3 separate regions of the Homo sapiens genome follow, and regions 1 and 3 are each linked to region 2. Evidence: fine-mapped expression QTL. A gene starts in region 2. Each other region holds a variant in brackets. All regions are shown on one strand. Distances are between the middles of the regions.

Region 1 (8,410 bases), 73 kb after region 2:
TAATTCATTATTTTAAACTTTCAGGCTCAACTTTAAAGAAGCTTCTACACACTGGAAATTCTATTAAGGTATTTATTTTATTGTGTAATGACATTTTTTATTACTCTTAAATTTGTTAATGCCACAAAGTAACAATGTTAGGGCATTTTGGAAAAAAGATCTTTAGAAACCACTTGACTTAGTTTTAATTTTTAATTGAGAAATTATATTGTTAGGGTTTTGTTCTTACATCATAACTTATTGCGAGAGACATTTTAAATAGTATTAGGAGAAAATGGGTTGGGCTTCAGAGTTTAGAGTTCTGAGTTCTAATTCTGATTCTGCTGGGTATGGGTAGGGACCATGGGCAAGGCACTGACTGCTCCAGTTTTATCATCAGAAAAAGGAAGTGCAGTCGCCCTCTAAGCTTCAGAGCTCACATGCTTGATTCTGTCCATCTTGGTAACCTGGTTGTTAAAATTATAGTTGTCTCTAATTAATTTTACTAATTGTGAGAGCCATTGTGGGAGAAAAGAACAACAGGGTCTCACTCTTGAATATTTATTTGTGGCAGATTTATAGGTTAAAATTGGTTTATTTTGAAATGGATATGTCTTTTATTATAACATATACTTCTTGATGCTGAGATAAGATTACCCTAAAACATAAATGGCAGAAAAAATTCAGCCTGGGATGAATATTTTATGAAAGGTAATTCACTTGGAGTTAATTAAGTTGTGCGAATGCCTTTAATAAGCTAATATATTGGTTGGTTTACATTGGCTTAAACAATCACAGCCTCTGAAAACTTGATATGTTAACTATTTCTTACATGTTGAAAAAAAACGAAGTGAGTTATTCCTAGCGTCACTGTAGATTCTATATTTTGTCCCTCTTATTTTAAGGAAATAGGCTTGTAGTTAAAACCTATCAGGTTGTTAATCTCATGTTTATAACTACCCTTATTTATATTTAGTTCTCTTAAATACAGTTAACATATAACAATTGGAGACTTGTGGTAGAATTTCATAGAAACTTCCCTCTTGTTCAATTAAATATAATTTGATTAGATATACATAGAGCTGGCCAGGCACAGTGGCTCATGCCTGTAACCCCAGCACTTTGGGAGGCCGAGGCAGGCAAATTGCCTGAGGTCAGGAGTTCGAGACCAGCCTGGCCAACATGGTGAAACCCCGTCTCTACTAAAAATACAAAAATTAGCCGGGCATGGTGGCATACGCCTATAGTCTCAGCTACTCGGGAGGCTGAGGCAGGAGAATTGCTTCCACCTGGGAGGCAGAGGTTGCAGTGAGCTGAGATCATGCCACTGCACTCCAGCCTGGGCAACAGAGTGAAACTCCATCCCCCGACCCCTGCCTCAAAAAAAGAAAAAAGATATACATAGAGCCTTCTCTTCCCTCCCCTCCCCTCCCCTCCCCTCCCCTCCCCTTCTCTCCCCTCCCCTCCCCTCCCCTCCCCTCCCCTCCCCTCTCGGTCTGATGGCTGAATAGTAATGTTACCACTCATTTTACCTGCTTGGGAGAGGAGGACAGGTGTGAGTGGGCATGGAGGTTTGTGCAGAACAGTGGTGGAGTCCAGGACTGTGTTTGGAAGTACACTGTGAATTTACCCCGTTAATGGGGCAGTACTGTCACCAGCTGGGGTGTCTGTCCTAGTGTATTTTGGCTTCTATTGGGAGAAAGCAGAATATTTTTATTTATTTATTTAGGCTTTTCTCCACTTTTTGGTTTGGTTTTCTGGCAAAGCTTTGTGTTTGACTTGCAATATTCTTGCTCTGGTGGAGTCAGCACCACCTTGAATTAATTGAAAGGAGATGAGGCAGTCACTCCAGTTGCTGGCATTTGGAGCTCACTACATCTTTCAGCTGCATGTGACATTTTTTCAACCTCTTTTGCTTTTTTTTTTTTATTGACATAATCTTTTCAGTTATTTAGGAATACAGAAATGGAGGGACATGTGCTTTTGAATTCTAGGAATGGGATAAATTTGAAGTGTAAAGAAAGAAAAAGGACACATCTCCCTATGTAGATGTCTCCTACAGCGTGATGCTGGCAATTCAGAGCATGGCAAAGGTGTTGGAGAAATAGAATAGGGACATAAGGTATAAGAAGAGCTGCTCTGTCTCATTGAGGTTATTTAGCTCCATATCTTCTGATTCTCAAGAACATTATCAACATGGCATATTATAGTGATAGCACATGTAAATTTGGAGGGAGATTATCTTTGTCATTGTTTTTATGGATAATTGAGGCCGTGGGTACTGTTGCCTTACAGAATAAGATACTATTAACAGGAAACACTTACATAGTGCTTACTGGGAGTTAGCCATTGTGTTATTTGGTTTACATATGTTAACTCAGTCTTTATCATAGTCTTTTGTGGTAAATGTCTTATCATCCTTATTTTACAGATGGGGAGACTAAGGCATGGAGAAGTTAAGTGGTTCTCCATGGGTCCCAGCTAGAAAGTGGCAGCGCTTACATTTGAACCCAGGCACTTTGGCTCCAGAACCCAGGCTCTTAACTCTTGTGCTGTATTGCAGCATCTTTGCTTATTTGTCACTAAGTGAAGAATTTGGTTTACTACTTAACACACCTTTAACTTGTAGTTTTTCTTTCTCAAGACCGATGCTACATTGTAATGCATTTCTGTAAATACATGTGTTTCATTTTCATTGTTTTTAATTTTGTTTTAGATAAGATGTGAAGGAATCAGGCTGTTTCTTCTGTGGCTTCAAGCACTTCAGACAAACTGTGCAGAAGAGCAGGTTCTGATTTTTGCTTGCCTGGTGCCTGGTTTCCCAGCAGTCATGTCATCCAGGGGCCCTTGCACACTGGAGACACTCATCAATCCCAGCCCTAGTGTAGCTGATGGTAAGTTATGTTAGCAGATCTCCCATGTTGAAATTACTCTTGAACTTACATTGAGGAATTCTTACTTTTTCATTTTCTTGAATAGAAATCCTGATGGAGTCTGAAGAGGAATTATTCCCCTTTCATATTCACTGTAGATTCTTACATACCTTAGAATCAAAAGACTTGGAGCTTATTTTATATGAAATGAAAACAGGAGAAATGTACTGAAGTGATGGAAGCAGGAATAGGAGGGGACAGATGTTGGCAGTAGCACGAAGTAGAGACACATGGGAAGTCTGGACTGGTTTTCTGGCTGTTAATGAGATTAAACTCCACCATCCAAAGCTATTGTTTTTATTGTTCTTATCACTGTTGTTCGTAAGTGGACATTCATCTGCTCACCAGGATCTTATTTTGCCACTGTATTTTCCTGCATCATCTATGGAAGGACAATAGTGGCCTCATGGGACTATTAACGGTGGTCATTTGTGTCCTGTGAGTTTTCAAGGAACTTGCCTGTTAGGACCATTGATTTATTACTGTATATTGCGTTATTGCTTAATGACTGGCATTTGATCTTGGGCTGACCAAAGCAGAATTTGAACGGGAAAGAATGGTGCAGCAGGAGAAGGCGCTTCGTGGGCATCTGGGCTGTGTTTCCAGGCCCTTTATGCACACTGCCTTGGAGTGTGCTCCTCAGTGTGAGCTGCTTCAGTGGATGGAGAGATGTATTTTAATAGAGACCATTTTTAAAACCCTAAATTCTGTTTAAAATTTAACTTTGGTGAATGAGCTGTCATCATTTTCTGTCCTTTCAGTAAAGATATATCCAGAAGAAATCACTCCACTCCTACCAGCCATATCAGGGGAGAAGATTGCTGAGGACCAAACCTGCTTTTTTCTTCAAATACTGTTGAAGTATATGGTTATTCAGGTCAGAGAAAAATTATGACTATTTCAGTGATGGGTTTATTCTCAGCAGGAAGAGGAAATATTGCCTCTTTTCCCTCTGTGTATCTATATTTTTCCTCTTTCTTTTTCTTTGAGGTGATTTTATGTGATATTTCAGCAAATGCAGAGTGTGTACCATTTTTTAGGTCACTTCAGCAAGACCAGCTGTATGTACTATTTTGTGAGTGTGTTTAAACCATTTTTCTCTCTTTACTCCTTTCCTACCCCTAATCTCTATGCTTGCAAGACAGGTTGAAGGAGGAGGCGGGCCCAGAGGCTGAACAGGTGGACAGGAATAGGCAGAGCAGACCAGGGGATCTGAAGGGAAGCACATGGAGCAATCTCCTCATGCCATTGGCACAGGCCTCCTTTATGTCATGTATTATTTTTCTCATATGCACCAATTGCCTACAGAACTGAAGTAACTGGTTTATGATTTTAATAGGAGATTTGTGACTCCTGGTCTAGATTTCTGAATAATAGTTAGAATAAAATGTACTGATTCTTTTTTCTCAGCAAATACTTCTCTTGTCCTTGAGTTCATCCTGGGTATTGTCCAGTATCTGTCTTCCCCTTCACAACCGAGTTGTTGAAGTAATAATCTCTACTGAGTTCACATCCTCATTC[A/G]TGTTCTTTTGACACCCACTGTTAGCTGCCTTCTGCCCTGTCACTGCTAAAGTGGCAAGCCCCAAACCACAAGGGTTCTAGGGTCAGCCCAGAAGGAGGGCACACTTCAGGTTTTGCTCTCCTCATTCTTCGAGGGGATTTAACTACCCCTCCTTCATGAGATTCTCTCCTCTTCTGATATTTTCTCTGGCAATTCTCCTCCCTTCCTTTCACTCCTTTCTAGTTTTCTTTAGGGAACTGTGCTTTTCTCTGCTGTCTCTCAAGATTCAGTACTTGGCTGCTCTTTCTGAATACTTAGCAATTTTGTCCCCTTTCCTTGCCCCTTTGCCTTTAGCCAGCAACAGAAACACAGGACTTCACAATCCTGAGAACCTGACTGGGGCATGCTTTCATATTCTGGAAACTCCACATTTGAACTCTAATGGCCCATTCTAGATGCATCTCAAATGCCAGCTGTTCAGAAGTGTTTGGACATTCAGTTTATCCTGGAAAATCAACAGAGTATCCAGAACTTGTGTTGGGGGCCTTGGGTTCTCATTCTAGGTGTGTCACTAATGAGTTGTGTGACCTCAGATAAGGCGGATGGAATTGATATAGGATAGAGGTTTGCATGCAGACTGTGAACTTCCTAATTGTGTGCAGAGTTTTAGGTGCATATCTGTGCCTCCCTTCTGCCTTCTCTTCTGTCGATTGAGATGAGTTCTCAGAGCACAGCTTTTGGCAGGTTATGGATGCTGAACCCCGCTGCCCCTGCGGTAGCCAAAGCATCTCATCCCTTTACCTCAGGTGCTGCACAAATTTCATTTTCTAAGTGGGCATGTCAGGAAGGAAGTTGGGAAGCCCTGCTTTAGAGTGCTCTGTGGTCTAACAAGCATTAAGAACCACCAACAGGTCTTATCTAAGGGCTGTGTTTCCCTAAGTCATGTTGGGGGTGACTGCACTTGTGTAACCAGGCTGTCCTCCTGGCTCCTGAGGGGCGGTCCCAGCTATTGAGCAGTTTTGGAGTGCTCCCACTATGCAAACACTGATGGGTTTTTGAGGGGGAGGATATTATCTCAACACAATGAAACATTTAAACTTAATCCATAGTGGACTGGCATGTCTGGTTTATCGTAGCCTTTGAATTTTTTTAATACGGAGAATGCATTTTCCAAGATTCCATGGCTTTTGCCTTTTGATATTGGTTTTACATGTAGGTAACATTGGTTGAAATTCTTGAGAGGGATTGTTTCTTTAATTTCTATTTATTATAAATGGCCTTTTTCTGAGTTTAGAAAAAAACACCTGATTGTTTGTGACTAAATGTTTTAAAGGCACAAGGAATGTTAGATAATTACAAAAAACGTAGAGAAAAAATATGGGCATGATACATTACAGCACGTTATAAAAGATACGATATCATTGAGCAATTTGGTTCTAAGTAAAAATGCTGTTTTTAACATAGTTACTGTTTTGTTTTGAAGTATTCATTCCTGCCATCTTTTGAGCTTTGTTATTATTTCATTACATGATTGTCAATATTATTTGTCATTTTTTACATTTAGGTTAGGAATTTTAGTAACATAACAACACTTCAGTTTAGTATATGTTAATTTGAAATATAAATATACATATGTTCTTTTCCACATATTATCCAAAGGCTGCGAGCTTGGAGTGGAAGAATAAGGAGAATCAAGATACTGGTTTTAAATTTCTTTTTACATTGTTTCGAAAGTATTATCTTCCTCATTTATTTCCATCATTTACTAAGTTAACAAACATCTACAAACCTGTACTTGGTAAGTACTGTTGGAGCCGTGTATAGAGGATATCCAAAGGAAAGCTATGCAGTCTCTTTCAAAGTGACCTTTGATTATTTTAAAGTAAAATAGTCATTTTATTTTTGTATTGAATGGTAACTTTATTATTAAATGTTTAAAGTTTCTTAATAAGTGATTTTAATTATTTGTACCAACTAAGATATACCTCAGCTTACAGCAGTAAAAGGGAACCGTGGCTCCTATACTCAGAAATAATTTGAAATGTATTTATGATATTTTTGGTATAATTACATTGTCATCTTTTAATGTAAAAATCTCTGCATTTCCTGAAGTCTTTCCTTGTGGGTGGTGGGGTATGGCGACCTCAGGCTTTGCTCAGTGACTGGAGGCCAGCCCAAGGCAAACAGCTGCCATTGTATGCCTTTTATTTTATGCTGGGTCCTGCATCCAGCAGCTACTACTGACAGGTGCTTATGGAGAACCAAATTTTAGGTGATTGGACAAGCTATGGACAGTAAGCCCCAGAGGACTAGGAAACAGAAAGGAATTTCCAATTTGGCTCCTAATGTTTTTTTCTTCTGTAAGCAATGAGGACTCACAGGACAGAAGCATCCCTTAGAGTGGTAAAGGTGGGGGTCAAATCTTCCTCTCCCTATTATTTAAAACAGGTAAAACTAGTTCAAATGAATAATTAAAAACAGTTTTGGAGGGGAAGTGGTGACACGAGATGTTACTTTTTTGGGGAACATGGTCACCTGATTCAGTTGTCTGTACTCTGTGTGTTTCTATGTATGCGTACACACACACACACACACACACACATACACACACACACACACACGGGGAGAGAAGCCAAAACTTGGTGAGTTTTGAAAGATGTAGAATTACTGACTTTTAGGTGCACTGGGACATGTATTTCTTTAGCTATATATATGTGAATATTTTTTCAAAATTTGTTTCTGATTTTATATGTAGTCTAAATTCATTTTAAAAACATGGTATATTGTTAATATTCCTAGATTAAAAGTTATTTGTTGATCATTTTTCTGCCTCATACAGGTATTCCAGATATACAAAAATTATTAAGATAGAGAGTTGAACTTATGGCAAGTAGTATCTCAAATCCAATACCATATAATTTTCATATTGATTATGGAATTTAAAGAATGAGAAACTGACTTCTTATTAAGTCTTTGGAAAAGGTAGCATTTGATGCCTCAAAGGTGAAATGTGACTTTCTTAATTCTTTTAAATATAAAGTAGATGATATTGATTCTGTTTCATTGGATTCATCTAAAGGGAAAAGGATATAAACCTCTAAAGTTCAGTGGATTTAATCACTGCAGTGTTAGATGTTAAAATACCTAAAATGATGTTTTAAAAGTTCATATATACTTTTACATTTGTTCCAGCTATAAAATAAAATTAAATTAGGTATAATGTATGTGAAAAGATGTTTACTATTATAGTCTCATGTAATTTATCAAAATTGTTAAAAATAGTTGTTAGCTTAGTTTTTCCATAGCTGTATATCATAGATACATAAACAATCACCATCATCACTCATTCTCAGTCAGATCACAAGGCGGAATCAGAAAGGAGCCTACCAAAAAAATGCCATTTTAAATAATTGCGGTTCTTCATTCTTAGTTGCTATTTAGACAACCAAAAATTGGATTTAATTGGAAACCAAAACATTTGTAGGGATTACTTAATGTTATGATTTATTAACCTAATCAATCATGTGTTCTTTCTTCTACCAGACATCCCCCATTTGAGACCAAAGCCTGTGTACATTACTACCACTCGAGACAATGAGAACATTTACAGTACAAAGATTCCATATATGGCAGCTCGTGTTGTTTTTATTAAGTGGATTGTAACCTTCTTTTTGGAAAAAAAGTATCTAACTGCAACACAAAACACTAAAAATGGAGTTGATGTATTGCCTAAAATCATCCAGGTATGCCATCCATCATCTTTTTATCTGTTAATGCTTGTGTAATAAAATACACTGGAACATAGCCAAAGTTATTGATTGTTAGAGTTATTGGTTCTTACAAGTTGTTGGTTATAGGTAAGTGATTTTATTGGCCTACCCTGTCTGTAATGCCAAGGTTTCAGAGGGAGTTGTGAGTTTGAATCACTTGCTGTGCATTGTTGGGACTGCCATGATGATGCAATCTCGGGAGCCATTTTGAGAAGATAGCTGTTGTG
Region 2 (8,410 bases):
GGTTCTCTCTGGTATCTGGTCATACTCGTTTTCTAGAGTGGCTGCAACAGATTACCACAAATTGCGTGGCTTAAAACAACAGAAATTTATTTTCTCACGGTTCTGGAATCCTGAAGTCTGAAATCAAGGTGTTGGGCTTCCTCTGGAAGACTCCAAGGGAGAATCCTTTCTTGCCTCTTCCAGTTTCTCTTGGCTATAAGGGTCTTTTCGTTTGTGGCTCCATAACCTCAATCTCTACCTTGGTCTTCATGTGCCCTTCTCCTTTGTTTCTATGTTTTCACTTCTTTTGTTTCTTACAAGCACATTTGTCATTGGATTTAGGGTCTACCCAGATAACTGAGGATCTTATTATATTTGCAAAGATCCTTCTGCCAAATAAAGTCTCAGTCACAGTTTTCAGGGATTAGGACATAGACATATCTTTTTGGGGGGAAGGGTGGGCACTGTTCAACCCACTACATTGGCTATTATAAATAGTGGTGAAAGGAATAAACTTCCATGCATGGTTTTATATTTATTTCTCCATAGAGTTATCCTACCAATTACATATATTGTTAGTTTTATTTTTTCCATTTATTTTTTATTTTCAGGCTTGTCTTTTTCTGTTTCAATTTTTGAATATGGAAAACATTTACATGGTTCAAAAATGAAAAAAATATAAAAAGATATACTCAGAGAGGACACTGAGTCCTTTCCACCTCATCCTCTATCCCACTTAGGTAGGCATTAATGTTAAGGTTTTTTTTTAAATCCTTCCAGTGTTATATATTAGAATATCTGCAGGGTAGATTCCTAGAAGTCAAAATTCTGGCTGGGTGTGGTGGTTCACACCTGTAATCCCAGCATTCTGGGAGGCTGAGGCCCGTGGATCACTTGAGGTCAGGCGTTCAAGAGCAGCCTGGCCAACATGGTGAAACTCTGTCTCTACTAAAAATACAAAAATTAGCCAGGCATGGTGGCACATGCCTGTAATTCCAGCTACTCAGGAGGCTGAGGCAGGAGAATCGCTTGAACCTGATAGGCAGAAGTTGCAGTGAGCTGAAATCACACCACTGCACTCCAGCCTGGGGGACAGAGCAAGACTGTCAAAAAAAAAAAAAAACAACAAAACATGGGAGGCCAAAGCCCATGGATCACCTGAGGTCAGATGTTCAAGACCAGCCTGGCCAACATGACAAAACCCCCTCTCCACTAAAAATACAAAAAAATTAGCCAGTCGTGGTTGCGCACGCCTGTAATCCCGGCTAATCGGGAGGCTGAGGCAGGAGAATCGTTTGGACCTGGCGAGATAGCTCCACTGCACTCCAGCCTGGGTGACAGAGCCAGACTTCATCTCAAAAAAAAAAAAAAAAAAAAGAAAAAGAAAAAAGAAAAAAAGAAATTGAAATTCTGGGTCAAAAGGCAAATATTTATTTTTGCCAAATTTCCTTCCATAAGAGTTGTAGCATCTAACATTTCTACCAGCTATGTTTTCTATAGCTCTGCCACCAGACTAGAGTGTGTTATCACACCTTGTCTCTGTAGAGGTTTTTTGTTTGCTTGTTTTTTCTAATTCAAATGATATTTCAGAGTAGTTTTAATTTGCATTGCAAGTTTTAAACTTTTGATCTCATTATTCTTATTTGCTGATTACTGTAGGACATTTATTCAACAACACTTAATGTCTGCATAACACTCGGCACTCTATAACTCCAGGGATAAAGAATTCAGTGCAAAGCAAGTGAAGCCCTCAAAGAGTTCACAGCCCAGCAGGAACGAGTTTAGAAAGAACAACAGAAAATAAGAAGAGCCATATGGAATATGCAAGTGGGTGAAAAAGTACCAACATAATAATACTATATGTTTCTTCCTTTTTAAGAGAAGAATTGGAGTTCTACATTTTCATTACTGGGTAAAGGCTAGATATGATGGGTGCGATGAATTTATATGCACAGATGCCTGTTTCTGGCATTACCAAGCTTGATAGTATCACATGTTCACTGTACACTGTCATTTATTCCCACATGTATCTAATCGCTCAGCCTCCTTAACTGGATTGGAAGCATTGGAGGTCAGGAGGATGCACCTTATACATCTTTTATCTCCAGGGTTTAGAATCATGCCTTACACATTGCAGGTGCTCAATAAATGTTTGATGATGATGGCAGCTTGCTTTGCAATTAAAAAAATGGAGTTTCCTAAGACAAGTATATTCTATTTTTTCAATCAGTGTAAGGAAAAGTATCTTCTCCTAAAGGAATTGGACAGTGAACATTGTGGTTTACTATGTGTAATCAGGTACAAGCTCAATTGCTGTAACGAAGACTCTCAAAATGCCTTGACTTAAGATAAGACATTATTTTGCTCTCTTGTTACACTTTTAGAAGTTTGTGGTCCTGATCTGTTATCATCTGGGGACTCAGGCTGGTAGGGCCGCTCTGCCATCATCTTGAGCATGGGGCTTTCATCTCCGGGTCTGAGAGTGATCCATGTTATTGGGTTTATCAGTAGTCTGTTCTTTTTTATTGCTGAGTAATATTCCTTTGTATGAATGTGTCTATACAAAGGAATATTACACAAATCTAAAAATAGAGAGACGCTCTAAAACTGTGAGTTTATTTATTTATTTTTTCCTTTTCGCCTGCCTGGTTGAAATATGTAGGACTACTTTAGCTTTTTATTGTATTTCATTTAATAAACTTTTATTGAGTGACCCTATGGGCCAAATACTGTGCTGAGGGATGGGGATACAAAGGCGTGTAAATCCTTGTCTCTTCCCTCAAGTTACAGTTCAGCTAGAGGAGAAAAAGACAGTTGTGTTGTCCCAATTTGGATGGAAACCACGTGATTCTACCTTAAGTACTTGCTGAAAAAGCTGAAAGGATGTCAAAACTTGCAGGATTCGGATGCCACTATACAATCCTACAGTGTAAGAAATCTCCTGACCATCTTTCAGCTCAAAGTCTTGCCCCAGGGAATAAGCGCCTGGCTTTAAAAAGTATACAGGCCTGAGTCAGATCCCTCAGGTTCTATTTCTGGTTCTGCTACTGGATCGCCATGTGGCTTGCACAACAGAGAACGCACCCTTCCTACAAAGAGGCAAGATCCCAAGGAGCCCTCTGAGCGAGCGACCTCCATACCCCAAGTGAGGTTGGGTTCCAGGAACCTAGGGGCCGGCTGAACTCCTCACCGGGGCACGCTCTTCCCTAGTGCCAAAGCAACTCATTTTAGTGTGAAATTAGAGCTGCGATTTCGGCACGGTCAGAGGGGCTTCGACTCGCTCCCTTGTGTGAATCCAGAAGCTAAACCTAAAAATAGTTTGCATTTGAAAAGCCTTGACACTTTTCTTACTGAGATTTTTGGGCGTGTGTGGTTCACGTTGCACTAGAGGAAAATGGGGTGGGCGCGCAGGAGGGAGAGTGAAACCACGGGCGATCTAGGCTGCCGGGGCAGGGGACGGACAGAGGCCGCCCTGCGCTTCTGCGACCCTGGAAAAGAGGTCGCAGCGCGTCGCCTGCTGGAGAACTTCATTTCCCAGGAGCACTTGCGGCCCGCGGCAGGGCGGGGCGACGTGCCCAATGCCGGCCCACTGACTCCCATCGTGCCGAAGACCGCCAGCCTGATTGGAGGACTGTCTCGCGGTGCATCTCGGGACTTGTAGTACAACGTGTGCGTGAGAGAAGCTCCTTTGTGATTCGAGGCGCCTTCTCGGCCCTCTGAGCGCGTCCCCGCTAGGTTTTGGCGCGGACGGGCTAGTGTCCCGCCAGGAGAGTTCGGCCTGTGTGCGCGTGCGTAGCGCCCAAGGGGCCGGCCGGCACCTCCCGCGGGGCGGGGCCTTCGGTTCCCCGTCGACACCGCCTTCCTGCCCCGCCCCTCGCCGTGACCGGCCCGCCCCTCCTTCCTGGAGACACAGCTGAGGCGGCGGCGGCGGCGGCGGCGGCGGCAGCAGCGGGGCTGGGGGCGGCGAGTGGCCCGCGCGACACGCGCCGGCCTCGACCCTATGCTTTGATTCGCGTGGCGCAGGCGCCTACTGCCCCGCCGGCGGGGCCCGGGCTTCCTGCCGCGGGATGTTCTCCCGAAGGAGCCACGGGGATGTGAAGAAGTCCACCCAGAAGGTGCTGGACCCGAAGAAGGACGTGCTGACCCGCCTGAAGCACCTGCGGGCGCTGCTGGGTGAGGCGCGCGCCGGGCGCGGGGGTCGGGGCGCCGGGTTAGGGGCACCTGCCGGGAGGGCGCTCCTCTGTGCAGGGGTCGGTGGCTGGGAGGCTGGGGAGGGGGATGGGTGGGCGTCCGACCCCCTTCCCTGGATCTGGGCTTGGACCCCCGGGGCTTTGTTTCCAGAAAGCCGCAGCCTGGCCCTCGGGCACTGCTCCCGTCGCCCTCGAGTTAAACTTAGCCCAGATTCTCGCTGGGCGCCTGCGCTCCCGGAGAACCTGGAGGCCGGGCACAGAGGTACCTGTCCCCTGTCCTCCCAGCAAGTGAACTGGATCCCAAGTGGTCATCACGTGCACACATTGAACTGTCACCTCCCCCTTTCATTTTTAAAATTTTATTTTTGAGTCTGAGACCCTAAGTAGACCGAGACCCCAAGTGAACCCAGCACAGACCTAATTGGGCTCTCATCTCTGTCATCCCCCTTTTAAATTTTATTTTTACTTTTGAGTGTGAGACCCCCATATAGACCGAGATTCCAGGCGATCCCAGCACAGATTTGTCATCTGTCTTCCCATGCTGCTTTTTAAATTTAATTTTTATTTTGGGTCTGGCTGCTTCAGTTTCTTTGTGTCCTTGGTGTGAAGGGGCCTTCTCTTCCTGCTTGGAGAGAGGGGTGGTTTTCTTGGGTTCAGGGAGGCTGCTTCTCCTTTATTACCGGCATGACAGTGATGCTGTCTGCCACCTTCTGGTTTATGGCCTGCCAGGTGGAGGTTCTGAGGAGCTCAGGTGGGCTTGGAGTTGACCTGTGATGAAGCTCGCCCCTGTGGGTGTGAGGTGTCCACAAGGCTTCCTGTCACCTGCTGCATGTGATCTGTAGCTGGTTCGCCTAGGCTATGTTTTGTTTTCTGTATTTTTTTACATCCTAAGTCTTAACTTTTCTTTGGGATGAAAACACCTTTGCTATCTATAGACACACTTACCTGTGTATTTGGTGGCGAAGGAAAGAACACCTTATGTTTCTTCCAGGTGTCTTTTAGTCCCAAAATTCACAAAAATCGCCTAGTGCTAATGTGTCTGTCACTTGAAAGAATATTGCATAAAATGATTTAACGTGTGAAGATTTTAAATAAAGATCTTGTTCATGAGATCAGAAGTTGCTGATTATTTCTATTTATATTCTACCTCTGAGGGGGAGAAGAACCCAAGCCAAACCAAACCACACCTGATTTTGCCAAGTGAAGTTATTCACAATCTCACATACCTTGAGGTTACACTGACTTGTTCAGTTTGAAATGAAATGTAAATTAGTTGCTGTTACAGGGATTCGTTTTCAAGACTTTTGAGAGTGAAGTGTGGAGAGTGAAGTGTGGCGTTCTTGGTAAACTGAATTTTCTACTTCCTGTAGATACCATGCACGCACAGGTTGCACAATACACAGGTTGCATTGTGTGGAGTTCCTGGTAGTGACTGATTAACACCTACTGCAGGGACATTTTTGATAAAGGAGAGTTGAGCTGTGTTTTAAAGCGTTTGATACTTTGAGCCTTTTTCTGTGCTTTAGCGTTTAAATTTTTGTTCTGTCCAGGTCTGCAAGATTAAGTTGGCTACATTTTATAAAGGCAGAATCAAGTAAACCTAGATCAGGTTATTTCTTAGCACACAGTACATTGTTCCCATTCTGAGAAAGTTGATTCTTTTCAAGTTTGTAAAATTGTAGTTTCACTCTAAGGTGTAGGTCTTATTTTAGGGAACTTTCTTTTATCATTTCACTGAACTCATCATGACCTCAGTTTTGTAACATGGAGAGGTTCTTTTATATTTCCTTAGGTGTATGTTTTTTGTTGATATACTTACTAGTGGAGTGGCCCAGTTTGCTTTGTTTATTACTGTGATCTTTGTAGGGACTAGATTTTTGTAAAATGTGTCTGAGGAATTCTAGTCATAATATTTAATGTAAACTTTCACTTGCTCCTGTGATTTATTAAAGACTTAAAAAGTAGTACGTAATGCACTAGTTCCTACCTAATCACATATTCTATTTCATTGCTACTCGAAAAAAAGTCTACTTAGAAAACAAAGGCCTCTTGAACTGAAAGTTAGGAATTAAGCCAAGATTAAGGAAACTATTTGAAGGAAATGAATAGTAATTACTATTGTATTTTTATGTGTGTATTTATATAACACTTTTGCTTTTCATATATTTTATCTTCAAGTGATAATAAAGTTTTTTTTTAAGTATGCAAAGATTATGCCACTTACTTGGGTATTTGCAGCCTGTCCCTGCCGCCTGCAGCTTCATGACTTGAGCTAGTTACGTAGCCTGTCTCTGAACCTCGGTTTCTTTGCTCTGTAAAATGGGTATGGTAATGTTTGCTTTTTAAAGGATTATTGTGAGTATGATGAATAAATGACTTCAGCTTGAAGTAGGCCTTTAACAGTTTCTTTCCCATTACATATCTCCCACCATTAATAGGATAGGACCAGTATTTTGATAGGTAATTTTTCTCCGTCTTTCTTATTTTTGATAATAGTGATGAATTTGTTCTCTTTTCCTAAAAAGTAGTCTGTATTTAAAACAACTGGGTGAGAAACATAAAATTAGCTGTGGAAGTAGAGTATTTCTTAGTATCATGGTAATAACTCCAATTTGGATGTAGATACTTTCACCTGGCTATAGACTGGTCTGGTATGATTAACTTTATTTTACAGAGGGGTAAGCTGAGGCACAGGCAGGCTTGACACGTATCAAGCCATGTAGCAGACGGTTTACTTATGTTAGAGGAAGAACGAAGAGCTGTTAGGTCCTGTGACTTCCAGTTCTTCCTACACTGTTGACAAAACAAAAACCAAAAAACCCTGTGTATTACCATATTGCTCCAGCAAAGATTCCATGTCTTTTTTTTAACAGGATCTTTGCTCTGTTGTCCACGTTGGAGTACAGTAGTTTGACCTTGCCTCAACTGCTGCAGCCTTGGCCTCCCTGGCTCGAGTAATCTCCCACCTCAGCCCCTGGAGTAGCTGGGGCTACAGGCATGTACCACCACACTAGGCTCATTTTTGTATTTTTTTTTTTTGAGATGGAGTCTCACTCTGTTACCCACGCTGGAGTGCAGTGGTGCCGTCTTGGCTCACTGCAACCTCCGCCTCCTGGGCTCAAGCAATTCTCATGCCTCAGCCTCCTGAGTGGCTGGGATTACAGGTGTGTACCACCATGCCTGGCTAATTTTTGTATTTTTAGTAGAGACAGGGGTTCACCGTGTTGGCCAGGCTGGTCTTGAACTCCTGGCTTCAGGTGATCTGCCCGACTCGGCCTCCCAAAGAGCTGGGATTACAGGTGTGAGCCACCATGTCCGGCCAGATTTTTGTATTTTTTGTAGAAGACGGGGTTTTGCCATGTTGCCCAGGCTGGTCTTGAGCTCACAGACTCAAACGATCCTCCCACTTCAGCCTCCCAAAGTGCTGGGCTTACAGGCATAAGCCACCATGCCTGGCCAGATTCTAATTAAAAGTTGAGTGCTTACTATGAGTCCTAAATTAGGATATAGAACTGGCATTGATGTAGTGAGAAGAATAGATACAAAATAATAGTAAATTTATGGTGTGTTATGTAATTAGATGGTCAGGTATATGGTAGAATCCATTATAGGATTTCAGAGAACAAAAGAGATAATTAAGAATGTCATAAAAATAGGGGCATCTTTAAGGAGATTTGTAGTAGTCTGTTCTCACTCTGCTAATAAAGACATACCTGAGACTGGGTAATTTATAAAGGAAGGAGGTTTAATTGACTCACAGTTCCACATGCCTCGGGAGGCCTCACAATCATGGCAGAAGGTGAATGAGAAGCAAAGTCATGTCTTACATGGTGGCAGGCAAGAGAGCTTGTGCAGGGGAAATCCCATTTATAAAACCATCAGATCTTGTGAGATTCATTCACTACCATGAGAACAGTATGGGGGAAGCCACCCTCATGATTCAATTATCTCCACCCGGCCCTTGACATATGGGGATTATTACAATTCCAGGTGAGATTTGGATGGGGACACAGCCAAATCATATCAACGTTTTACTTACGCTGGGTTCCAAAGAATGGTTAGACTAGTTCTGTCCAATAGAGATATAATGTAAGCCACATGTGCAATTTTAATCTTTTTTAGTGACCACATGTTAAAAAGTAAAAAGAATCAGGTGAAATTAATTTTAATAGTGCATTTTATTTAACTCCATGTATTTAATATATATTATATCTGCAGGTAATCAATATAAAATGCTATCA
Region 3 (8,410 bases), 45 kb before region 2:
GAGCTTCAGTGACAGGCTTGATTTTTGCAGCTTATTGGAGTGTTTTTGTTAAGCATCATGCCATCCAGAAAAATTCAATGCCAGGAAGTGTTGCCTAATAGATAGAGGGCCCAAAGGAAACCCAGAGGGCCAGCCACACCAGCCAACCCCTCTGCAGATTGCTGACTGCCCGGGGGTAACCTTGCTCACAGCCTGTTTCTCTTATCTGTGCATGTAGCTCTTTGCCTCAGATCTTGAGGTCACTTTCATTTACAAAGAACCTCAGGAGGACCTTAAGTCTTTCTGTACCTCACAATGGATGAATACCTTTGCAACCATCTAAGGTGAATGTCTCATCCCTTTACCAACTGCATTTTAGTTGTTAGTGTAGGAGAAATAGCTGTTCAGACATCAGCCCATGGAGGTTTTTAGATGAGGCTGAAGTTAAATTGCACTTACAGCCTCAGGCAAGTCAATGAATTTATGTGATGAAAATTTTATTTAGCCAGATAGCTTTTCATCTGTCTTCTAGTTTGGAAGTGGAAATGCAACCTGATTTAATAATCAATAAATATAGAACGCTACCGAAATTGCAAGTAGAATTGTTCAAAATTATTATGGTATTACAAAACATTACGTTTCCTTTGACAATTTGAGACTGTGGGATTAGAGCAAGTCAATCAAGGCAAAGAATTTTAGCTTAGTTTCAATCCTCCAAATCTGTCCAATACAAAAGATAAGCCTTAACTATCAAAGTTTGTTAAGTTCTTTAGGGAAAATTATGTAGTTAAAGAAGTAAGAAACACACCAACAAGGATGAATTTCAGACATAATGTTGGGCAAAATAAGTGAAACACAAAAGGCTATATATACTGTAGGATTCCACATGCATGAAATTCAAAAGCAAACAAAACATCTATGCTGATGTGGCTGCCTCTGGGGGGGTCCTGGAGAGGGACAAGACAGCCTTTCAGGAGCTTGAAACATTCTATGTCTTGTTGGTTTCATGGCTGTAGACATGTCTAAAATTTATCAAGCTGTGTATTTGCAATTTTTGCCCTTTGCTGTATACAGGTTATAACTTAAAAAAAAAAAAAAAAGAATTCAGCAAAAAATCACCAGGTACACACTGGTAGCTTAAGACTACTATTTTGTAAATAATTTATCTATAATTTGGAATTATTCTTTAATATTTTAGGGGTCTCTGAAAACACAAAAAAGATAATCCATGAATAGTTTGATCTATACTTAGAGAATAAATGATTTGGGTGACTAATGAATCAATTTGCTTTATTATTTATTTATTTATTATTTTTGAGGCAGAGTCTCACTCTGTTGCCAAGGCTGGAGTGTACTGGTGCAATCTCGGCTCACTGCAACCTCCACTTCCCAGGTTCAAGCGATTCTCGTGCCTCAGCTACCTGAGTAGCTGGGATTACAGGCATGCACCACCACACCTGGCTAATTTTTGTATTTTTAGTAGAGATGAGTTTTTGCCGTGTTACCTGGGCTGGTCTCAAACTCCTGGCCTCAAGAGATTTGCCCACCTTGGCCTCCAAAAGTGCTGGGATTACAGACATGAATCACCATGCTCGACCAAATCAATTTGTTTTAAATGAATCTCTCAAAATGAACAATAATGAAGCGGCATGATCTTTGCTTAACCTGATTTATTTCTCAGTTATGTGGATAGTAATCTCACTGTTAAAGTTATTTGATATCAATGATTTGGGCCATAGAGAATGTTCCATGGCACTATATGTTTAATTACCTTTATTGTTCATATGCCCATATCTAATTAGAAATAATCATCCTGTAATATCTTCTTGTACATATTTGCTCAGATATTATCTTGTGAGGAACAGGTTGATTAACATTTTTCTTTCAATATGTTTTCGTAGTTTTCTTCATGGTTTTCTGCAAAACATCAGGTGTGTTTCTAAAAATACATCTATTTGTTGTTGTGTTCTGGTTGTTGGATGGAAAAAAGTGTTGACAAATTATTAAATTATTCTCAAAGCTATAATTATTATAATTTCTTTTGCAGCAATCCATTTGAAAGGAAAGAAGTGTCACAGCCCCTGATTTACCAGCGAACAAAAAACACTTGTTAATAAATCTTCTGCACAAAGAGCACTGGAACGTTTTGTTTATTTTCAATTGCATGCACAATGACTGTTTCCAGTTTATTTTTTTTAACTTCTGCCCTAGAGTCCTGGCACTGAATAAAGCTCAGATACACAAGAAAACAAGGAAGTGACTGATAAAATCATGTCACAAAGTCCAGAGCTAGGTAGTTTATTCTGTCCGTAAAGACTATAAAAACTTGGCCTGGTGCAGTGGCTTATGCCTGTAATTCCAGCACTTTGAAAGGCTGAGGCAGGCGGATCACTTGAGGCCAGGAGTTCAAGAGCAGCCCAGGCAGCATGGAGAAGTCCCATCTCCACGAAAAATACAAAAACTAGCCAGGCGTGGTGGTGCATGCCTGTAATCCCAGCTACTCAGGTGGCTGAGGCACGAGAATTGCTTGAACCCGGGAGGAAGAGGTTCCAATAAGCTGAGATTGGGCCACTGCAGTCCAGCCTGAGCAACAGAGTGAGACTCTGTCTCAAAAAACAAACAAATAAGCAAACAAAACACAAAACAAAACAAATGAACAAACAAAAATCATAAAAACTCTTGTTTGTGGTCATGTTTGGTGGGATTCCACCACCTGGACTGGACAAATCCCCATCTTCCTAAATCACAGGTTAGGCTCCCAGAGGTTGGGTGATCTATAGCAGGCACTGTCAGCACTCTGTCTAGAATTTTTTTTTCTTTTTTTCTGAGACAGTCATGCTCTGTAGCCCAGGCTGGAGAGCAATAGTGTGATCTCAACTCACTGCAACCTCTGCCTCCCGGGTTCAAGCAATTCTCCTGTCTCAGCCTCCCGAGTAGCTGGGATTACAGTCACGTGCCACCACACCCGGCTAATTTTTGTATTTTTAGTAGAGACAGGGTTTCACCTTGTTGGCCAGGCTGGTCTCAAACTCCTGACGTCGTGATCTACCCGCCTTGGCCTCCCAAAGTGCTGGGATTACAGGCGTGAGCCACCACACCCAGCCCACTGTGTCTATATTTTCTTGAATGCCTTTTCACTGTGTTTGTGTGCCACTCCCCTTACTCCCCACCAACACTTCAAACTTGGGTGTGCTTTCCTTCCAACAGCCTGATCTACGCTCTTTGGAGGTATGTTCTTCCACTACTGGAACAATTTTGTGCAAATGTAAACATTTTGTGCAAATGTGCAAATAACTTGGAGTGCTGGGAAGTTACTCCTCCAGTGATTATTGGGTGCTGGGAGCTCAGCTCCCTGTCTCAGGGTGCAATTCTGAGGTGTGACTTACATCCCAGAGTCCTTTGCAGGATCAGGCTGAAGTCATACTTTGCAGGACTTTGCTAGACCCTGCAACCTTGCTTAGCTTCCTCCCTGTCCCTTTCTGCTTTCCCATTTCTTTAGTGTGTCCCTGGGGGGCACTCCCTTAATCAATCACTTTCACACAAATATTAATCTTAGGGGCTGGGCATGGTGGCTCATGCCTGTAATCCCAGCACTTTGTGAGGCCAAGTCGGGAGAATCACTTGAGGCCAAGAGTTTGAGACCAGCTTGGGCAGCATAGTGACACCCTGTCTCTACAAAAAAAACAAAACAACAACAACAATACAAACAAAAATGCAAAAATTAGCTGGGCATGGTGGTGCACACCTGTAGTTCTAGCTACTCGGGGGCTGGGGCAGGAGGATCACTTGAGCCCAGGAGGTCGGGGCTGCAGTAAGCCAAGCTTGCATCACTGCACTTTGGCCTAGGCGGTAGAGAGAGAGACCTTGTCTCAAAAAAAAAAAAAAAAAAATTAATGTTAGAATTTGCTTCTGGGGAACCTGAATTAAGATATGACGCTGAATCCTAATCTGTAATCTCCTTCGTGGGTTTCATGCATGCTATGTCATTATCAATATTTGAGGGGGATCAGGAGCTGGTCTGCTCACTGTTACCTCTTTTCTCCACCCTTTTCTGACTTGCAAAAATTCACTACTGCTCTAACTCCTTACACTCCCTTTTACACATTCAGCACCTTCAGGCTGTCAACAATTGCATGGTAGGTTGTGCATACCTTCAAAATGGCCTTTAGTGCAAAAAAGTTGGAACCACGAGTTGCCTACCTAATTCAGCTCTGCTGGGTGGGGGACGTAAACATAAATCCTTCCAATCAAGTTGGTGCAAATCCAGTGTATTAATTATTCCAGTTATTGTTACTGCAAAGCAGCATAGCTAGTTGAAATATAAGGCAATTTCTTACTACTCACACATTTAAAATATATGCA[A/G]TGAAGAAATAAACCAGATTTCTGCCCATTTTTCACTCCATGTGCACGACTGCAAATGTAATAGTGAAAACTATTTCAGCCCTTTTGGAAAACCGCAGTCAAACATTCTCTCATAAGGCGTGTTCCTGAATTTACAATATTCCTTAATATAGGTGTTCCATTACCAATTCAAGTTTGATGAAGCCCAATAGACCCCGTTTTACAATCTTGTTTGCCATGTCTTAGACAAAGAGAATTCTTACTTTTGTAGTTACTTCTAAAATCTCCCTGGAATAATAAAAAGGAATAATTAGACGTTAGTGTAAATCATTCAGCTTCTATTTTTGTAAATACATTTAAAAATAATTGACCAATCAAGTAACTAAGTTCCCGAGATTATAGCAGATGTTGCTTGCCTAAAAGTAGGACACAAAAACAGGACCATTCTTCCAAACATAGTACTTTTTTCTCACAACTCAAGGATTAAAACAGAACTAGGCAGTTGCGTTATTAATCACTGTGACAAACTGTTTTTTTGGAGGTAGCATTCTTGATAATTCAGGAGGCAGTTCTTATCCTCGACCCCACACCCGTGGCCATGAGGATAGGATAAAAGTGATGTCAAAGCATGGAGACAATCAGCTATTAATAGCTCCTGGTCCTTGGTCTTTAAGGAACCAGCTCTTTACCCAAGGACATGGAACATAAGAATTCAGGAATGGATGGCAATGTTCCACCATGGACCTCCTCAAGCTATTTTCTTATGTCGTACTTGCCTTTTTTGGGAAAGATGTCTGTGGTTTCTACCAAATTCTCAGATGGGTTCACGCTTAGAATTTTGTTTTTAAAAATCCCTGCAATAGGCCGGGCACGGTGGCTCATGCCTGTAATCCCAGCACTTTGGGAGGCCGAGGCAGGCAGATCACGAGGTCGGGAGTTCGAGACCAGCCTGGCCAACATGATGAAACCCCATCTCTACTAAAAATGCAAAAAAAATAGCCAGGCATAGTGGCATGCACCTGTAGTACCAGCTACTTGGGAAGCTGAGGCAGGAGAATTGCTTGCACTGTAGAGGCGGAGGTTGCACTGAGCCAAGATCGTACCATGACATTCCAGCTTGGGCGACAGAGTGAGACTTCGTCTCAAAAACAAAACAAACAAAAACCCTGCAATAGAATGTCCCATTCTGCTCACCCAGAACACGACCTTTGCACCTACCCTGATTTGACCTAATGCCATATCAGCCTCCAAACACCAGGTGAGGGATACTGTTGTTCACCCTGCTACAAGCCATCAGAGGCAGCTTAGGGCTGGAAAGAAGACACCCATCAAGGTGGTTGGGACACTTCTTAAATATGTACACTTTGCAGCTCTGTTTTCCAAGTTGATCGCAACTTGACTGTGAAACTATGACAGAATGCACAGCAGCAACAAAAAGAGAGTTCTAGCTTTGAGTCAAAGAAAGTGAGTAATTGTTGGAGATAATGTAGGTGGCTTGAATCAAGAAGGTAGAAGTTAAGATATAAAAAGTGGTTAGATATTGGATGTGTTTTGAAGACAAAGCCAAAAGAGTTTGCTGATCCATGAGTAGAGGGTGTGACAGAAGGAGGAAAGCAAAGATGGGGTTTGCACCTGACCAACTGGCAGGATAGAGTTGCCATCACTGCAGGGGGAAGGTATGGCTGGGGCACACTGGATGGGAAGATCTGGAGTTCTATCTCTGCGAAATTATGTTTGAGATCCCCATTAGACATCCAAGAAGAGATACTGAGGAGATATTCATGGGAGAGGTCTGATATAAACATGTGAATGTGAGAATCATTAGAATATAGGCTGAAAGCCATGAGACTCTTTGAGATTACCAAGAAAAAGAAGGAAGTGAAAAAGAGAAGTACAAAGACAGAGCCATGGGGACTCCAAATTTAAGGGATAGAAAAGATTGAGAGGAATTCCTAAAGCCAGATGAGAAGGAACTCCTACCCCAGAAGCCATAGGTTATAAGTCGATTTTCTTTTTTTTTTTTTTTGAGACAGAGTTTCGCTCTTGTTGCCCAGGCTGGAGTGCAATGGCGCAATCTTGGCTCACTGCAACCTCCACCTCCCAGGTTCGAGTGATTCTTGTGCCTCAGCCTCCCTAGTAGATGGGATTACAGGTGCCCGCCACCACACCCAGCTAATTTTTGTGTAGTTTTAGTAGACATGGGGTTTCACTATCTAGGCTAGACTGGTCTCAAACTCCTGACCTCAGATGATCCACCCCCCTTGGCCTCCCAAAGTGCTGGGATTACAGGCGTGATGGTTCGATTTTCTAAAGATAGCCTCACCACTATCTCCCTTGCCATGTGAGGTTAACACTGCTCCTTCAAGAGGTAGGGGACAATGTTTCCTCCCTGGGAATCTGACAGGCCTGTGACTATGGTAAAAGTGAAACTGGATGATTTCCAAAGCTAGATGACAAAGACACCACAAAATAGCTTTTGTCTGGCCTCTTTCTCTTGGAACACATGCCTTGGGAGGCCCAAGCCTACAGGTGAGAAGTCTGGCCACAATGCTATGGTTGCTGCCATGCTGGGGAGACCACGGAGAGAGAACAGATAGACAGAGACAGAGAGGCACAAGGATCCTAAGTGTTCCAGCCTCTAGGTGTTTGAGTCTTCCTAGCCCAGGCACCAGGCATATGAGTGAAAGAACTTCAGATCATTCTAGATCCCAACCTTCGAGCCATCCCAGCTGACATGGAGTGGGGCAGAAATGAGTAGTGCCCATGAAGTCCTGTCCCGATGGCAGATTCATGAGCAAAATGAATGAGTTGGTTATTTTAAGCCATTAAGTTTTGGGGTAATTTATTATGCAGTCCCAGTAACTGGTACACCAAATAAAGATGTCGTTTCTCAGAGAAGCACGTTCTCAACTCTGTCAAAGGCCGTTGTAGGTAAATGGAGATGATGACGGAGAACCAACCGACTGCTGAATCAAGGATGTAGAAGGCACTGGAAATGGTGAGGCATAGCTGAAATAACGTGGGTTTAAGAAAAGAATGGGAATTGAATTGGAAACAGCCAGTAATGGCTACTCTTTCTAGGAGTTTTGCTAAAAAAACAGATTTGAGAAATGAAGCAGTAGCTGGAGAGGAGAGTGGGGCCAGGAGAAAGGCTTTGGTTGAGGTTGAAGACAGACAGTACGTATGTTGATGGGAATGATGCAGCAAAGGGTGGGAAATGGATGATGCAAAAGAGAGAGGAGTGAATTGCTGGAGCCAATTCTGTGAGAGATAAGAGGATACAGGGTCCATGACTTTATAACACAGGTGGAGGGAATGGCCTTAGCTGGAGCTCAGCAAGTTTATTCATGGTTACAGAAGTAAAGGCAGAGTCTATGAGCACAGAAGCAGGTGAGTGGTAAACATCGTGGTGGAAGGAAGTTTAAGTTCTTACTTGCTTGCTTCTGTTATTTCAGTGGGAAAGTAAGTGGTCTGCGGCAATACATGGGCTTTACCAACCATCATTAGGGTCCCACTTGAAGTCCATAATCATGAACTTAAAGGGAGAGCAGTTAGTGTGACAATGCTGTTGTCCAGCCACATTCAGTGGCCCAGGTGCGAGCACAAAGTAGGCAGTGCTTTGGACTTCATCAGGGTCAGGGAATTGTCAAGAGAAAACTGGTAAGAGAAAGGGGTAAGGCAGTTGAGAGCTTAGGCAAAGGAGTGGCTGTGGAATTTAAGCTGGGCTAAGAGGAAAGGGAAGATGTCGGGGGTTGAGGGACAGCAAAGATACAGTGGGATGTATGGATTGTAGCTCCCAGAGGAGGTGAAGGATTGCTTGAACTCGTGTACTTTAATTAGCTCCATTCTGAGGATGAAGAACTCCAGCTCAGAGAGGGTAAAGTAGCTTTCAAGTAAAGTCACCAGGGATTCAAAGCTAGGCTGCCCAGCTCCTGTAATAGTGGGAACATCTCTTCACAGCTCAACATTTGATCAGAAAGAAAGAGAAAAAAGAGCAATTGATATTAATAGTCACCAAGAGCTCTGAAAACCAGACCTGGAGGTCTCTGCGAGAGGTCCCTCATGTTGTGAGAGCTTGGTTTTACCTTCT

Which allele goes with the higher level. Alleles are on the strand shown, and positions count from the first base shown. SD is a standard deviation of normalised expression in the study named. Not every link is listed here.
As copies of A replace G in region 3, the expression in whole blood of the gene that starts at base 3,883 in region 2 goes down (small effect, 0.27 SD a copy in GTEx).

What was found. PIP is the estimated chance that this variant, and not a neighbour inherited with it, causes the effect. A credible set is the group of variants that fine-mapping cannot tell apart.
Region 1: its variant is the best candidate, but not a certain one, in a credible set for the expression of RALGAPA2 in whole blood (INTERVAL, PIP 0.78).
Region 3: its variant is the best candidate, but not a certain one, in a credible set for the expression of RALGAPA2 in whole blood (GTEx, PIP 0.71).

Annotation. Positions count from the first base shown.
Region 1 is chr20:20,635,164-20,643,573 of GRCh38, reverse strand. RALGAPA2 (Ral GTPase activating protein catalytic subunit alpha 2) reads left to right here. Exons shown (of 40, transcript NM_020343.4): 5 at 25-68; 6 at 2,696-2,873; 7 at 3,674-3,789; 8 at 6,073-6,211; 9 at 7,957-8,156. Among named protein-coding and RNA genes, the nearest start is that of RALGAPA2, 73 kb to the left of the region's middle. The variant A/G (reference allele first, on the strand shown) is at 4,434.
Region 2 is chr20:20,708,117-20,716,526 of GRCh38, reverse strand. RALGAPA2 (Ral GTPase activating protein catalytic subunit alpha 2) reads left to right here and starts at 3,883. Exons shown (of 40, transcript NM_020343.4): 1 at 3,883-4,152. The coding sequence starts at 4,047. RefSeq lists enhancers at 3,423-3,622, 3,447-3,741 and a silencer at 3,733-3,992.
Region 3 is chr20:20,753,222-20,761,631 of GRCh38, reverse strand. No RefSeq gene overlaps it. Among named protein-coding and RNA genes, the nearest start is that of RALGAPA2, 45 kb to the right of the region's middle. The variant A/G (reference allele first, on the strand shown) is at 4,342.